4 linked regions of the Homo sapiens genome follow. The protein of the gene in region 3 purifies or fractionates together with the protein of the main gene of each other region. This does not show direct contact. Each region holds a gene or a part of one and is shown on either strand. Other genes may lie near its edges.

Region 1 (3,500 bases), on a different chromosome or scaffold from region 3:
CCCCAAAGAATAGAGAATTGCTAGGGTATATAATTGGGGGAAGGCAGCGAGGGATGAGGATAGTAAGGGTGGCAGTGTCTGTTCTATGGAGAGCACCCTTTATAGCTCTGTCAAAACATGAGCATCTTATTCTGTAGGGGATGGAAGGTGTCCCTGATGGACTTAAGGCAGGAAAGCATTTCAGAAAGACCTCCCTGACCATGGGGAGGTTGATTGGAGGAACAAGAAGGCTTAGTCGGCGTGCAAGTCAGAGAAGGGGCGAGAGATGAGGGTATGACTTTGCAAAAGGTTTGAGAAGTAGAGCTTGAGATTGGCTGAGTGTTGAGGAGGTGAAAGGGGCGCTGGGGTGACTTGAAGGTGGTTCCTGGCTTACCTGACTGTGTGCTAATTGTTTTACGAAAAGAGACTGGGAACCCACGAGAAGGAAGCATTGGTGGTGGCAGTGGCTAAGGAGAGAGAAGTGATGAGTCTGATTTGGGACATGTGTAGTTTGAGGCACCCATGAGTCATCCAGGTGTAGGTATTAGGTGGACAGTTGGAAATACTGGCTTGGGAAAAGAGTTGGGCTGGACATAGAGATATGAGAATCCCCTTTGTTTTGATAGATTAGAGTCCTCCTAGCTCACTTATTTGCCTTGTATTAATGTCTGTTAATACCTCCATCTCTTCTCCCCTGAATAACATAACGTTTGAAATATTTTATAGCTTTATACTTTTTTATAGCTTCAACTGTGTCCTCAAACAGCTAGATCCCCCATACACAGTTGCTAAAAGCCAGAAGAAACTTTCTCAAACCTTGCCAAAAATTCCTACATTGATCTGTTAGGTACACCAAAGTTATAGTCTTCTCTTCCTTCCTTCATTCATTTAACACATATTTATTGAGCATTAGGTGCTGTTGTTCAGTGTACTGGGAATGGGGCTGTGGACAGACCAGACAAGGTTCCCAGACTCAAGGAGCCTGTTAGGAGACAGACAATAAATGAACAAACAGGTAGGCATGTGATGCCAGAAATTGATAACATACTACCAACGAGGTAAAACAGAAATGTGGTAGAGTGGACGGTGGGGCTGCTTTAGCTGGGGTGTGCTGAGAAGCTTCTTTAAAAAGGAAACCTTTGAGCAGAGATTTGAAGGAATTAAGGGGGTTAGCTAGGTAGGTATTTTGGAGGAGAATATTCCTGCAGATGCAGAGGAAACAGTGACTGAAAGCCCAAGTCAGCAGTGTATTTAGCATATTTGAAGAAGAGTGGAAGGCCATAGGACCAAAGTACATAATCCTGGGGAAGAGTGGTAACAGAAGGAGTTGGGTCGGGGACAGTCATGTAGGCCTCACAGCACAGGGTAAGGACTTTGGATCTCAGCCTGTGAGTGACGGGGGCTATTGAAGGTTTGAGCCCCTTTAGAGGATCCTTCCCAGTGTGGTGTGGAGAACAGACTGGGAAGTGGGAGGGGACAAAGTAAGAACAGGGAGACAGGAAGCTACTATATCACCCAGATGTGACACATGAGAGTGGCTTGCACCAGGATGATAGTGGTAGAAGAGACAAAAAGTGGGTCTGACTCATGTATATATGAATAAATGTAGTGTAGAAATGAATTGCTAATGTAGGGTATAAGAGGAGAAAAGAAGTCAAGGACAATGCCACGGTTTTAGACCTGAGCAACTTCTAGCATGAAGATACTATTTACTGAAATGAGGAAGATGGGGAAGGTCCAAGTCTTTGTTAGATGCTAGAATACGGCCTTCCTCCCCCTAACCCCTCCCACTCCATGCACCCTACTGTCTGTGCCCATCTCTATCTTTCTGACACGGCTGTTGCCCTGCTGAAAAACCTGTGTACCAGTTGGTCCCTTTGGACACCAGAGGTCTGCTGTGAGGATGACATTAGATTATACAAATAAAGCCCATAGTGGGGACTCATACACAGACAGAGCTCAGGAGATGATGTCGGGCAAATAAATGAATGGAGTAAAAGGAATTTAGATGAGGGAAACTTTCTGTAGGTAATGTGTATTGAGGAAGACCATTTGGTAGGTAGGACTTGAGTTGGTGGTAATAATGATAGCTAATGTTTATTGAGTGGTTACTTTGTGACAGGTGAGGGAGATGCAGTTATTTTTCCATTTCACAGATGAGGCCCAGAGAGAGTAATTAATTTGCCCAAAGTCATCGAGCTAAAGAGTGAAGGAGCTGGCTGGAGCTCAGGGCTGCAGTGGAAGGTTGGGTAGGTGTTTCTTTTTGGGAAAAATGGCACAGAGCAGGACATGTGCAAGGATAGTCAGGGACCAAGTAAATCAAGTGACTGGTACACAAGGTTTATTCTGGGAGGTAGAAAGTTAAAAGCAGTGACTCACCTGGATGGATCCCTGTGAATGGGAGCCAGTGAGGTTTTTTGAGCAGGGGCAACAGCCGTGTCAGAAAGAGAGATGGGGTCGGGCGCAGTGGCCCTCGCCTGTATTCCTAGCACTTTGGGAGGCCAAGGCGAGCGGATCACTTGAGGTCAGGAGTTCGAGACCAGCGTGGCAAACATGGTGAAACCCCAAAAATTAGCTGGGCATGGTGGTGCGTGCCTGTTATCCCAGTTACTCGGGAGGCTGAGGCAGGAGAATCGCTTGAACCTGGGAGGTGGAAGTTGCAGTGAGCTGAGATCTCATCATTGCACTCCAGCCTGGGGGACAAAAGTGAAACTCCGTCTCAAAAAAAAAAAAAAAGGAAGCTAGAGGTGGCCACAGAGAGTAGGGTGCATAGAGTTGGGGGCAGGGCTAGGAGGAGGAAGCCCATGTTCTAGCATGTAAGAAGGACTTAGACTTAAAGGAATGAAGGTCTGGCCTTAGGTGGTAGTGATGGGGATGAAAGCAATAGTTAGAGGATGTTGCAAAAATATAAATACCCCATGCTATTTAAATCTGTTTAGGAGCTGGGTGCAGTGGCTCACGCCTGTAAGGCCAGCACTTTGGGAGGCTGAGGCAGGCAGATCACCTGAGGTCAGGAGTTCAAGACCAGCCTAGCCAACATGGTGAAACACCATCTCTACTAAAAATACAAAAATTACCCTGGCGTGATGGCACGTGCCTGTAATCCCAGCTACCCAGGAGACTGAGTCAGCAGGAGAATTGCTTGAAACCGGGAGGTGGAGGTTGCAGTGAGCTGAGATCACGCTATTGCACTCCAGCCTGGGCAACAAAGCGAGATTCCATCTCAAAAATAAATAAATAAATAATCTGTTTCGGTAATGAGAGTTTGGAGAGTGAGGAATATCATGTTATCTGAGTCTGTAGTATTTCGTTTCCTGAGTTTTAGTTAGAGAGTAGCAATAGTTTGGATAATGAGGAATACCTGCCTGCTTGCTATGGAAAAATGTATCTACATGTGTTTGGTTTCTGAGTCTGAGAGTGGAGGGACACCTGTAAGTAAACAATCTGAGGTAACACAGAGATGCAAAGGAACAGGGTGAGTTAGAACCTGGGAGACAGAAGCCAGGGGCAGAGGCGGAGGA
Region 2 (3,500 bases), on a different chromosome or scaffold from region 3:
AAAGTAGATATTTATTTATTTATTTCTGTACCTTAACTGATTTTGGAGATCATTTCTATCTGCACATATAGAGATTATCTTTTTTTATGGCTATATGTATTCCATTGTTCCTTACATATGATAATATATTTTACCAGTGCAGTGTTTATGAACATACAAATTGTTACCACCATTATCATTACAGCTACTTTTCAGTAATGCACAGATCCCTGGCTTTAAAGCATGGGTGTATTTTTATTTTATTTATTATTATTATTTTTGAGATTTGTTCTGTCACCCTGGCTGGAGTACAGTGGCACAATCATGGCTCACTGCAGCCATAACCTCCTGGGTCCAAGTGATCCTCTCACCTCAGCCTGCCAAGTAGCTGGTACTACAGGTGCTCACCACCACACCCAGCTAATTTTTGTATATTTTGTAGAGATGAGGTTTTGCCATGTTGCCCAGGCTGGTCTCCAACTCCTGGGCCCTAGTGATCTGCCCAACTCACCCTCCCAAAGGGCTAGGATTATAAGCACCCAGACGTGTATTTCAAGAAAAAAAAAAAAAAAACCTAAATAACTATCTGTAATGCCTTTTTTTTTTTTTTTTTTTTTTTTGAGACAGTCTCACTCTCTTGCCCAGACTGGAGTGCAGTGGCATGATCTTAGCTCACTGCACCCTCTGCCTCCCAGGTTCAAGCAGTTCTCATGCATCAGCCTCACGAGTAGCTGGGATTACAGGCATGCATTAACCACACCTGGCTAATTTTTGTATTTTTACTAGAGATGGGATTTTGCCATCTTGCCCAGTCTGTTCTTGAACTGCTTGCCTCAAGTGATCCACCTACCTAGGCCTCCCAAAGTGCTGAGATTACAGGCGTGAGCCACCATGCCCAGCCCCTGTAATATCAGTTTGAATTCCCACCAGTTAAAGTGCCTGTTTTCCCAAAGCCTTGCCTAGTAGGATGCTGATTCAGTGGATGAAAAATGGTTATTTCCCATTATAGTTTGAGAGATTAAATAGTACAGACTGTGGGGATAGATTTCTTGGGTTTAAATTCCTACTCTGCTACTTCTTGTGAAATGCTAGAGAAATTGCTTAACTTCCTCATTTATGTTTTCTCATCTCTAAAATGAAGTTAATAATAGTTTCTGCCTTATGTTTTTTGTGAGGATTAAATGAGTTAGTACATGCAAAGAGCTTTGAACAGTACCTAGCACATAGAATTATCATTGTTTGCTATTATTAATTTTAAATTGCTTTTTTAATGAGAAAGAGCATCTTTTTATGTGTTAGAGATAGTTTTGTTTTGTAATCTCCATGTTCTTAACCCATTTTTCTATTAGGTTGTTGGTCATTTTCTTTTAAAAATTTTTTTATTATGGTAAGAACACTCACCAGGCATGACGACTCACGCCTGTAATCCCAGCACTTTGGGAGGCCGAGGTGGGCAGATCACTTGAGGTCAGGAGTTTGAAACCAGCCTGGCCAACATGGTGAAACCCCATCTCTACCAAAAATTCAAAAATTATCCCGGTATGGTGATGTGTGCCTATAATCCCAGCTACTCAGGAGGCTGAGGTGAGATAATTGCTTGAACCCAGGAGGTGGAGGTTGGAGTGAGTGGAGATCGCACCACTGCACTGCAGCCTAGGCAACAGAGCAAGACTGTCTCAAAAACAAAACAAAAAAAAACTAAAAGAAAGAACACTTAACATGAGATCTGCGCTCTTAGTAAGGTTTTTTCTTTTTTCTATTTTTTAAATTATATTATTTTTAAATGTATAAATAAGGATGGTGTCTCACTATGTTGCCTAGGCCTCAAACTCCTGGGCTCAAGTAATCCTCCCACCTCAGTCTCCCAAGGTGCTGAGATTACAGGCATGAGCCACAGCACCTGGCCTACAGTGTATTTTTATGCCAATTTTTTGTTTGTTTGTTTTTGAGATGGAGTTTTGCTCTTTTTGCCTGGGCTGACGTGCACTGGTGCAATCTCAGCTCACCGCAACCTCCACCCCCTGGGTTCAAGCAATTCTGCTTCAGCCTCCTGAGTAGCTGGGATTACAGGCATGCACCACCATGCCCGGCTAATTTTGTATTTTTAATAGAGACAGGCTTTCTCCATGTTGGTCAGGCTGGTCTTAAACTCCCAGCCTCAGGTGATCTGCCCACCTCGGCCTCCCAAAGTGCTGAAATTACAGGTGTGAGCCACTGCACCCAGCCCCATGCCAAAAATTTAAATGCAGACCAGACGTGGTGGCTCCTGCACGTAATCCCAGCACTTTGGGAGGCTGAGGAAGGAGGATCACTTGAGCTCAGGAGTTTGAGTCCACCCTGGGCAACACAGCAAGATCCCATCTCTACAAAAACTTTAAAAATTAGCTAAGCATAGTGGCACACACCTGTAGTCCCAGCTATTCGGGAAGCTGAGGACAGAGGATTGCTTGAGCCCAGCAGGTTAATGCTGCAGTAAGGCGTGATTGTTCCACTGCAGTCTAATCTGGGCAATAGAGCAAGACCCTGTCTCAAAAAAATAAGTAAATAAAAAGACTTGTTTAGGAAATTCCTTAATGTTGAAAAGTCTTGACCACTGGCATTAAGTATTTTTGTCTCTAATAAAATATTTTCACTAATAATGACTTCATTAACTTTTGACATTTAAATAAAAAGGAGGCCGGGCATGGTGGCTCACACCTGTAATCCCAGCACTTTGGGAGGCCGAGGTGGGCGGACACAAGGTCAGGAGCTCGAGACCATCCTGGCTAACACGGTGAAACCTCGTCTCTACTAAAAAATACAAAAAATTAGCCAGGCGTGGTGGCAGGCACTTGCAGTCCCAGCTACTCAGGAGGCTGAGGCAGGAAAATGGCGTGAACGCGGGAGGCGGAGCTTGCAGTGAGCCGAGATGGCGCCACTGCACTCCAGTCTGGGCGACAGAGCGAGACTCTGTCTCAAAAAATAAATAAATAAATAAATAAATAAAAAGGAGACATGTCTTGTTTTTAAGTGTTTTCTTAAAATACATCTTTCTTATTTAGGAACTGATGAATCCCCAGAACCACTGCCAATCCCCACATTTTTGTTGGGTTATGATTATGATTATCTGGTGCTTTCTCCATTTGCTCTTCCTTATTGGGAGAGACTTATGCTGGAACCCTATGGATCTCAAAGAGATATAGCCTATGTTGTACTGTGTCCAGAAAATGAAGCCTTGTTAAATGGAGCAAAAAGCTTTTTTAGAGATCTTACTGCAATATATGAGGTAGGTGTTTAAAAAGAGATGACATTTTAAAACTACCTTACGATTTGTATTGTTGTATATACAGCATACTGGGCAGTTCAGTTGATTGGGACACAGTGATGATGTCAGATTAGATGTTTATTTCTCATACTAGCCAGTTACATTCTTTGCTGAGTTTGACCCAGTCTGTTAGATGTGTATGCCGTGGGTCAGAGTGGCTATCCCCCTATAGGAGGAAGAAACATTGAGGGCATATAGATATATATCCCTTTTAATG
Region 3 (3,500 bases):
TTGATAATTTAAAACTTTAAAACTCAGACAAATCTAACTTCAAAAGATTTTGAAGTTATATTTTCAAATTTTCACAATTTATCTAAACAAAGTAATTTAAAAACTTGCAAACATTTAAAAAATTTACTCGAAGCTTAAATCTTAGTTCATATTATTTAGCTCATTATATAAACTTTACAACAGTGAGGTAAAAATACAAGAAGTGTCTAATTCTCTCTCAACATCTCAATTCCTCCTCCCTATCTCAATGATCTTCTTGCATTGATGAACACAATTTTTAGAAAAATGCTTTAATACAATTAAAAATAACTTTGTTAGTTCCACTAGTGTATGTTCTATTTTTTTATTTTACCAACTTTTTTCAACCACCTATGCTAAACTTTGTCTCTTGGTGAGTTAGTTGTGAACTTAATCCTAAAATTACAGAATACACTTAACGTTTACAATCACTAGCTAACCATACATTTCACTGAATCTACAATACTAAGTTTCAAAATGTAACCATATGCTTTATGGGTATGAATTTGCAGCAAATAAAATATAAGAAGTTATGAGATGTTTCTAGTCATTCTAGTGATTTTCCATGTTATTAAATTCTATAATAATCTCCCCATATCCTCACTAAGTCACTTCTAATGTAACCAATTTTAGTAACTTTGTCATATAAACATACATCTAAACATAAATGCACATAATAGGATTTTCAACTTTTCAAGTTGATCCAACTCATTTTCCTACTTTGAGTAAAAACTTTACATCACATAGCAAGTGATTCACCTATACATTTCTATTCTATATTATCTGTGATCATAACCAGCAAATTATATATTTTAGAGATGAGGGATACTGACTCCAATCACAAGAGAGCTATTATAATGATTAATTCAATTATATTCAATTATATCCCAGGGTTGTACCTCCATCAGAACCATGCTTTATGATTTGATGCTATTTATACTCAAAATTGAGATGAAAATGTAATGTGAAGAGATGAATTTGAAACAGTAAGTGCCTCGAGCAGAGAAGGCTTCATCGAGAAAATAATGTATAAATTGGGACTTGAATTTTGAGTAAGAAAGATGAGATAAAAGAAAAAGGTCTATCAGGAAATGGTATGAGTGGGTACAAAGAAGGGCAGAGAATGGAAAGGCATGAGTCAGCTTGTCTAGTAAATGGGGGCTGAAGGGTAAAGAACAGAAGCATGGAGAGTGAGGTTTCACATAGCTGAGGCTGGCTCTGAGTTGATGCGGACTTAGCATTCCTATTCTAGGACTAGGGAGTACCAGTGGGATTCTAGTCAATCCTACATTAAATACAGTTTTAGGTAGTGTTATTGTTTCATATATTTGTTCTCAACTGCCCTAGAAAATAGGGATTCACTAATAATTATTTGAATCCCTCTCTGAACTAAGAAGTCATTTCAATTTTTGTAATCTTATTTTTTTAACATCTAAGAAAAGGATGTGATGGTTATTCTTCAACATCTATACACACTGCATCTAAACAATCTTTTATTTCATTTAGGTTTATGTGAACCAAATCTGCCTTAATGGTACTGCTAAGGGGACCACATTAAAAAAATATATATATCTCTATCTTACAGGCCTTTTCCTTCTGAAATCTACTTCCTCTATAGAAGAATGGAGAATGGAGTCAATTTGCCCATTAGTGGGTGCCCTTTCAAAAGAAAATAGTTGTTTCCCACGAAATCTGAAAAGAAATAAAGCAGTATCACAGACAACAGAGGTAGCACTCACCTTCCAGACTCTCAGTTCTCTCGGATTTATTTGTTTCTTCAAATCCCTGCACAGATCCCAGATCTTTATCCATTCTCTCTTTATCCAAGGCTAGAGAGTCTCGGGAAGTGCTTTCTAGATCCCTTTCATGTTCACCTTCCAGTTTTGCTTCACAGCGTTTCACAGACTCTATTTGAGAACTCTCAAAAGTTCTGTCTCTGTCTCTGTCCCTGTCCCTTTCAACAGAATCAGAAATTAGTCTCTCTCTTTCCCTATCCAAGTCTCTCCTTTTGTCTCGTTCTCTCTCTCGTTCTCGTTCTCGCAATCTATCTCGATCCCTGTTGCGTGGCCAATCTTTATCAGCATCTCGGTCCCATTCTCTCTGCCTCGTATCTCTCCTCTCTCTCTCGCGCTCTCTGTCGTGTTCATATCGATCTCGTTCTTGAAGCCTGTCTCTGCTATCAAATGACCCAGATCTTGAATGGACCTGTCGATCTGACTCTGGAGAACTTCTTCTTGAACTATGGCTTCTTGAATCCTGGCGATCTAAAATAAATATACCATATATAAAGAGTTATTAGCACATGATAAAATAGAAACAAAATGCTTCATTTCAAGGTCCTTTAAAACATAATTTACCTTTTTCCATATTCTATGTAACTTTCTATGTTCCATATTGTCTCTATATGTTCTATATATTTCTATATTCTACATATACATTTCTCTCTATAAATATCCAAATATATAAATCATTTTAAGAAAAATTCCTCTCTCAAAGTTCTAATAAATAAAAAAAAAAGTTTCCTTGTCTATTTCCACTATAACCATAAAATATCTTCCAAGAAGTACATAAAATGATTAGGCATTAATAGAACTAATCACTCCATTATTTGATCTCCTCCTACTCCCCTATCTTATTTTCTGTGGTCAAAAGAGGCAGCCTTGACTGCATGAAGAATAGCAGGAAGGTTAAAATCATAGGCATCAATAAGGGACTTGAACACATAAACCCTTCCACCAAGACATACTACTAAAATCCTGATATTAAACTGATTAACACTACTGTATGTATTTCTATTATAATGTTGGTATTAATGTGATAACAGGTAACATTTTGATAGGGCAGCTAAACTTTTCTTTAAAAAGTTGCATAAAATTTAAGGCAGCATGTAAAGTAACCAATTTAGCATTACTTTAGAATTAAAATGTGTATAAAATATACTAACCTAGGAAACAGTGACTAGATCACAATTCAATTTTATTACCTGAAGAAGTACTTCGACTGGGTTCTCCACGCTTTAACTGATCAATCCTAGATTTTCTCTCTCCTGTGATTTCCAGGCTTTTTGTTTTTTCTCTATCTCTTGAGCCACTGTGCAGTACTCTCTTTCGACCACTTTGGTCATCTCCACTTCGATGGGCTGAATCATTGGATGGGGAGCGAAGACGACCAGACGTATGACTACGGTTACTCCGATTGCTCCCGAGGCTGCTGCTCCTCTTTTGATCCATAGGCTTGCGATGCTGTGCATCTTCTATAGTCACGTGAGGCGTCTCTACTTTTTCTACTCGTGTTCTGTGGCATTTTCTGTGTGAGTCTTCATTGGCAAAAGTATTATTGGTGGTATTGGTGGGGGTGGCAGAGGTGGAAATAGTGATGGCAGATGTGCTGAAAGAGGTGGCGGCAGCAGCAGTAGTGGCAGCAAGAGTTGCAGGCACAGTTGTAGCAGTGGCAGTAGCCACAGGCGGTGGAGGAGGAAGAAG
Region 4 (3,500 bases), on a different chromosome or scaffold from region 3:
TATGATATGAAATTTAGGATACAAATGATCCCATCATGCAGGTACTGAGCATAGTACCCAATAGTTTTTCAACCTCCCCCCAATAATCTCCAGTTTCTGTTGTTGCCATCTTTATGTCCATGAGTACCTAATGTTTAGCTCCTACTTTGGTCTCTGTGGTCTCTAAAGGTTCTGGTCCTTTCGCTTATATTCATCAAGTGATTTGACAGATTTCCTTAAACATCTTTACTCACCTTTTTCTTGATTCAGTGCTCACTTGGCTTTTATAACCTTTAACTATTGTTAAGAGTTTCCACAAAGTTGATTCTGACAGTGTTTGTTCATGATATGTGTTTATTTCTGTGGAGGGACATTTTTGCTGTCATCTCTGACAGAGTGGTTTTTTTTTAAGACTAGATTTTTAGGGGACGGGAGCAGTAGTATTCAATAAGATAGGCTATTATGCCTTATTCATAATGGTAAACTATTGTTATCAAATTGGCATCATTTATCCAGTGAGTAAAATCTACAGTATAGGAGGTTGTGGGCATACCATCCTTTCATCATGAAGAAGAAAGGAGCTTTGTTGAGGACAGGAGGTTATGGAGTGAGTTCAAAGTCCAACTCGGTACAGTTGGGTTAAGGAAAAAAAAGATGTGTCTATTATTAAATGTTGTAATACTTCATAGGTGGTGTTGAATTGTTCTTTTTGATGAAATTGTTTTAAAAGTAGTCATGACCTATATGTAAAAGTCCTTCATTATTAATCTCAAAATATGATTTCTAAATCTAGGTGTCCTTAGCTAACCTTGTGATTTTGAATAAGCTTCTTTTTTGGGCTTCCAGATACTTTATGGGTAAAACGTAATGGATTGTGCTTAGACTGAATGGCCTTTGAGGTATTTTCACCTATATTAATGTTTTATTTTTTATTTTTTCTATTAAAATAGCTCAGATAGGAGGGTGATGCAATAATGAATGGAAAAAGACAGCTGAAAGGAAATGCACAACTGATTTTGATGGTTGTTTAGAACTGTTCGCACTGCTATTTATCTCTGTGTTTCAAACTAATTTCATTACTTCAGTATATTGTCATAAAACTTTCAGTGTAATTAAAGCTAAAATAGCCTATAGTCACCACATTGCTCCATAGTAAACTATTTTTTAATGTTAAGCAAAAATGTTGCCATACTGTATATATAGTTTTGTGTCTTTTTTATACATTTAACAATATTTTTGCTGATAATTCCATGTCATTTTTAACATAAACCTACCTCTATATAGTATTCAATCATACTAAGGTATCATGGTTTATTTAAGCACTTTATCTTTGACAGAGGGTTAGGTTGTTTCTGTTCTTTGCTATTATAAACATAATACAGTTAACCTCCATGTGGTAGTTTATATTTCTAGGGCATATACTTAAAGGTGAAATTACTACACATATTTTTGGACCTACCTTGGAAGTAACCAGTACTTAAGAATTTCTTGTACTTCTTCCAGAAATGTTATTATAGTATGTAAGATATATATATATACACACACACACACATACTGTAATGACTAATGTGTAGCACTGTTTTTAAGTAGTAGAAGAGTAGACAACTAAACATTCAAAGGGGGATTGGTTTCATAAGTTATATATTTGTGTGTATATATATCTTACATATATATCTCTCTCTTACATATGTACACAATTATTTGTGAAACCAATCCCTCTTTGAATGTTGTTTTCTACTCTTCTACTACTTAAAAACAGTGCTATATGTTAATCATTTATAAATATGATTGTAATTTTGTAGGATAAATTTCTAGTAGTTGAACATCATGTGGAAAGGTATATACATTTATAATTTTGATGTATATTGTCAAATTGGTCTGCATGGAGGTTTTGCTAATACATTATCATATGTGTGTTAGAGGACCTGTTTTCCCACAGTCTTGACAATACATTATGTTGTCAAATATGATCATCCCCAATATGATACATGAAAAATGGTGTCATGCTATCGTTTTCATTTGAGTCTCTTGTTCTGAGTGGATTGAGCTTTGAGCTTTTGTTTTTTGTTTTTTCTTTTTTTGGAATGGAGTCTTGCTCTTTCGCCGAGGCTGGAGTGCAGTGGCGCAGTCTCAGCTCACTGCAACCTCCACCTCCCGGGTTCAAGTGATTCTCCTGCCTCAGCCTCCCCAGTAGCTGGGATTGCAGTTAGGCACCACGACGCCTGGCTACCTTTTGTATTTTTGGTAGAGACGGGGTTTCACCACGTTGGCCAGGCTGGTCACAAACGCCTGACCTTTTGATCTGCCCGCCTTGGCCACTCAAAGTGCTGGGATTACAGGTGTGAGCCACTGAGCCCGGCCTGTTAGTTCCTATTTTTCTATTGGGTTATTAGACTTTGTTTATGGTTGATTTTTGCCATGAGGAAAATTGTTTTTATGTGTATCTTATGACCTGAAATTTTGTTTTATTATTGGGCCTTTCCCGTTCTGAGTTTATTAAAGAATCTTCTATTGTTAAAATGGGCTCAATTCTAATGTACTTTTTTTTTATATAGGTCTAAGTATTTAGCTACGCCAGGTATGAAAGCCAGTTTCTGAGATTAACTTTTTATTACTTACTACTCAAGAGAGGATGACCTACCGTACTTCACCCTTAAAACATGACAAAATATAGGATAACAATAACAGATTTGTGTGTGCTCCTGTACACAATGTCTTATAGGACAACTGAAACAGAATAGCACCAGAGCTGGACTTTACCATTCAATTGCTCTATAGATTAGTTCAAATTTATGGTGTGGTTCCAAGAAAAACTCTTGATTAGAGTGAAAAGTACTCCTGTTAGGAATTCCTCTTTAGTAATTTGTTATAGACTTGTTTGGTTGTAAATAACATCTAGATCTATGGTTCTTTCTTTTTGGTGCCTCTGTAGTTCTGGTCATCTTTTTGGGACTAATTAATTTAGTTTCTTTTAACTTAGATCTAAAAGGTAGAATTTCATGAATCCAGTTACTTAAGTGTATTTTGCATAGTTAGCATTGCATTTTTTAGAAGATAAGGCAGTATAAAATTACTACTTTGCAACATGAAGTAATTTCTTTAGCATGATGACATTAAGGATAAGTTTTATCTCATTTTCCTTTTTTTATTATTTCAATTAAAGTCTTCAGTTTTTTTTCCTTTGAAAATATTTAATTTATCTTCAACTGTATTTACAATTAGTAGATATACAGGGATGGTTATTGGTTAACTGTAAACTTAAAGAGAATGGTATGTCTTTTTATTTAGATCCCAAGGAAGAAAAAGAGGAAGAAGACGATTCTGCCCTCCCTCAGGAAGTTTCCATTGCTGCATCTAGACCTAGCCGGGGCTGGCGTAGTAGTAGGACATCTGTTTCTCGCCATCGTGATACAGAGAACACCCGAAGCTCTCGGTCCAAGACCGGTTCATTGCAGCTCATTTGCAAGTCAGAACCAAATACAGACCAACTTGATTATGGTACAGTGCAACTAGAATATGGC

The links.
Region 1: the proteins of ZC3H13 (region 3) and NUP93 fractionate together in Homo sapiens (co-fractionation; one large-scale study listed by BioGRID). This does not show direct contact.
Region 2: the proteins of ZC3H13 (region 3) and MED13 purify together in Homo sapiens (affinity purification with mass spectrometry, with the first as the bait; one study listed by BioGRID). This does not show direct contact.
Region 4: the proteins of ZC3H13 (region 3) and ZFP91 fractionate together in Homo sapiens (co-fractionation; one large-scale study listed by BioGRID). This does not show direct contact.

Annotation. Positions count from the first base shown.
Region 1 is NC_000016.10:56,733,129-56,736,628, forward strand, and holds part of NUP93 (nuclear pore complex protein Nup93), read left to right. Parts: intron 1-3,500. UniProt on the Homo sapiens protein: Plays a role in the nuclear pore complex (NPC) assembly and/or maintenance. May anchor nucleoporins, but not NUP153 and TPR, to the NPC. During renal development, regulates podocyte migration and proliferation through SMAD4 signaling.
Region 2 is NC_000017.11:61,967,779-61,971,278, reverse strand, and holds part of MED13 (mediator of RNA polymerase II transcription subunit 13), read left to right. Parts: intron 1-3,020; coding exon 3,021-3,244; intron 3,245-3,500. UniProt on the Homo sapiens protein: Component of the Mediator complex, a coactivator involved in the regulated transcription of nearly all RNA polymerase II-dependent genes.
Region 3 is NC_000013.11:45,965,747-45,969,246, forward strand, and holds part of ZC3H13 (zinc finger CCCH domain-containing protein 13), read right to left. Parts: coding exon 3,002-3,500; intron 2,283-3,001; coding exon 1,758-2,282; intron 1-1,757. UniProt on the Homo sapiens protein: Associated component of the WMM complex, a complex that mediates N6-methyladenosine (m6A) methylation of RNAs, a modification that plays a role in the efficiency of mRNA splicing and RNA processing.
Region 4 is NC_000011.10:58,606,563-58,610,062, forward strand, and holds part of ZFP91 (E3 ubiquitin-protein ligase ZFP91), read left to right. Parts: intron 1-3,267; coding exon 3,268-3,477; intron 3,478-3,500. UniProt on the Homo sapiens protein: Atypical E3 ubiquitin-protein ligase that mediates 'Lys-63'-linked ubiquitination of MAP3K14/NIK, leading to stabilize and activate MAP3K14/NIK. It thereby acts as an activator of the non-canonical NF-kappa-B2/NFKB2 pathway.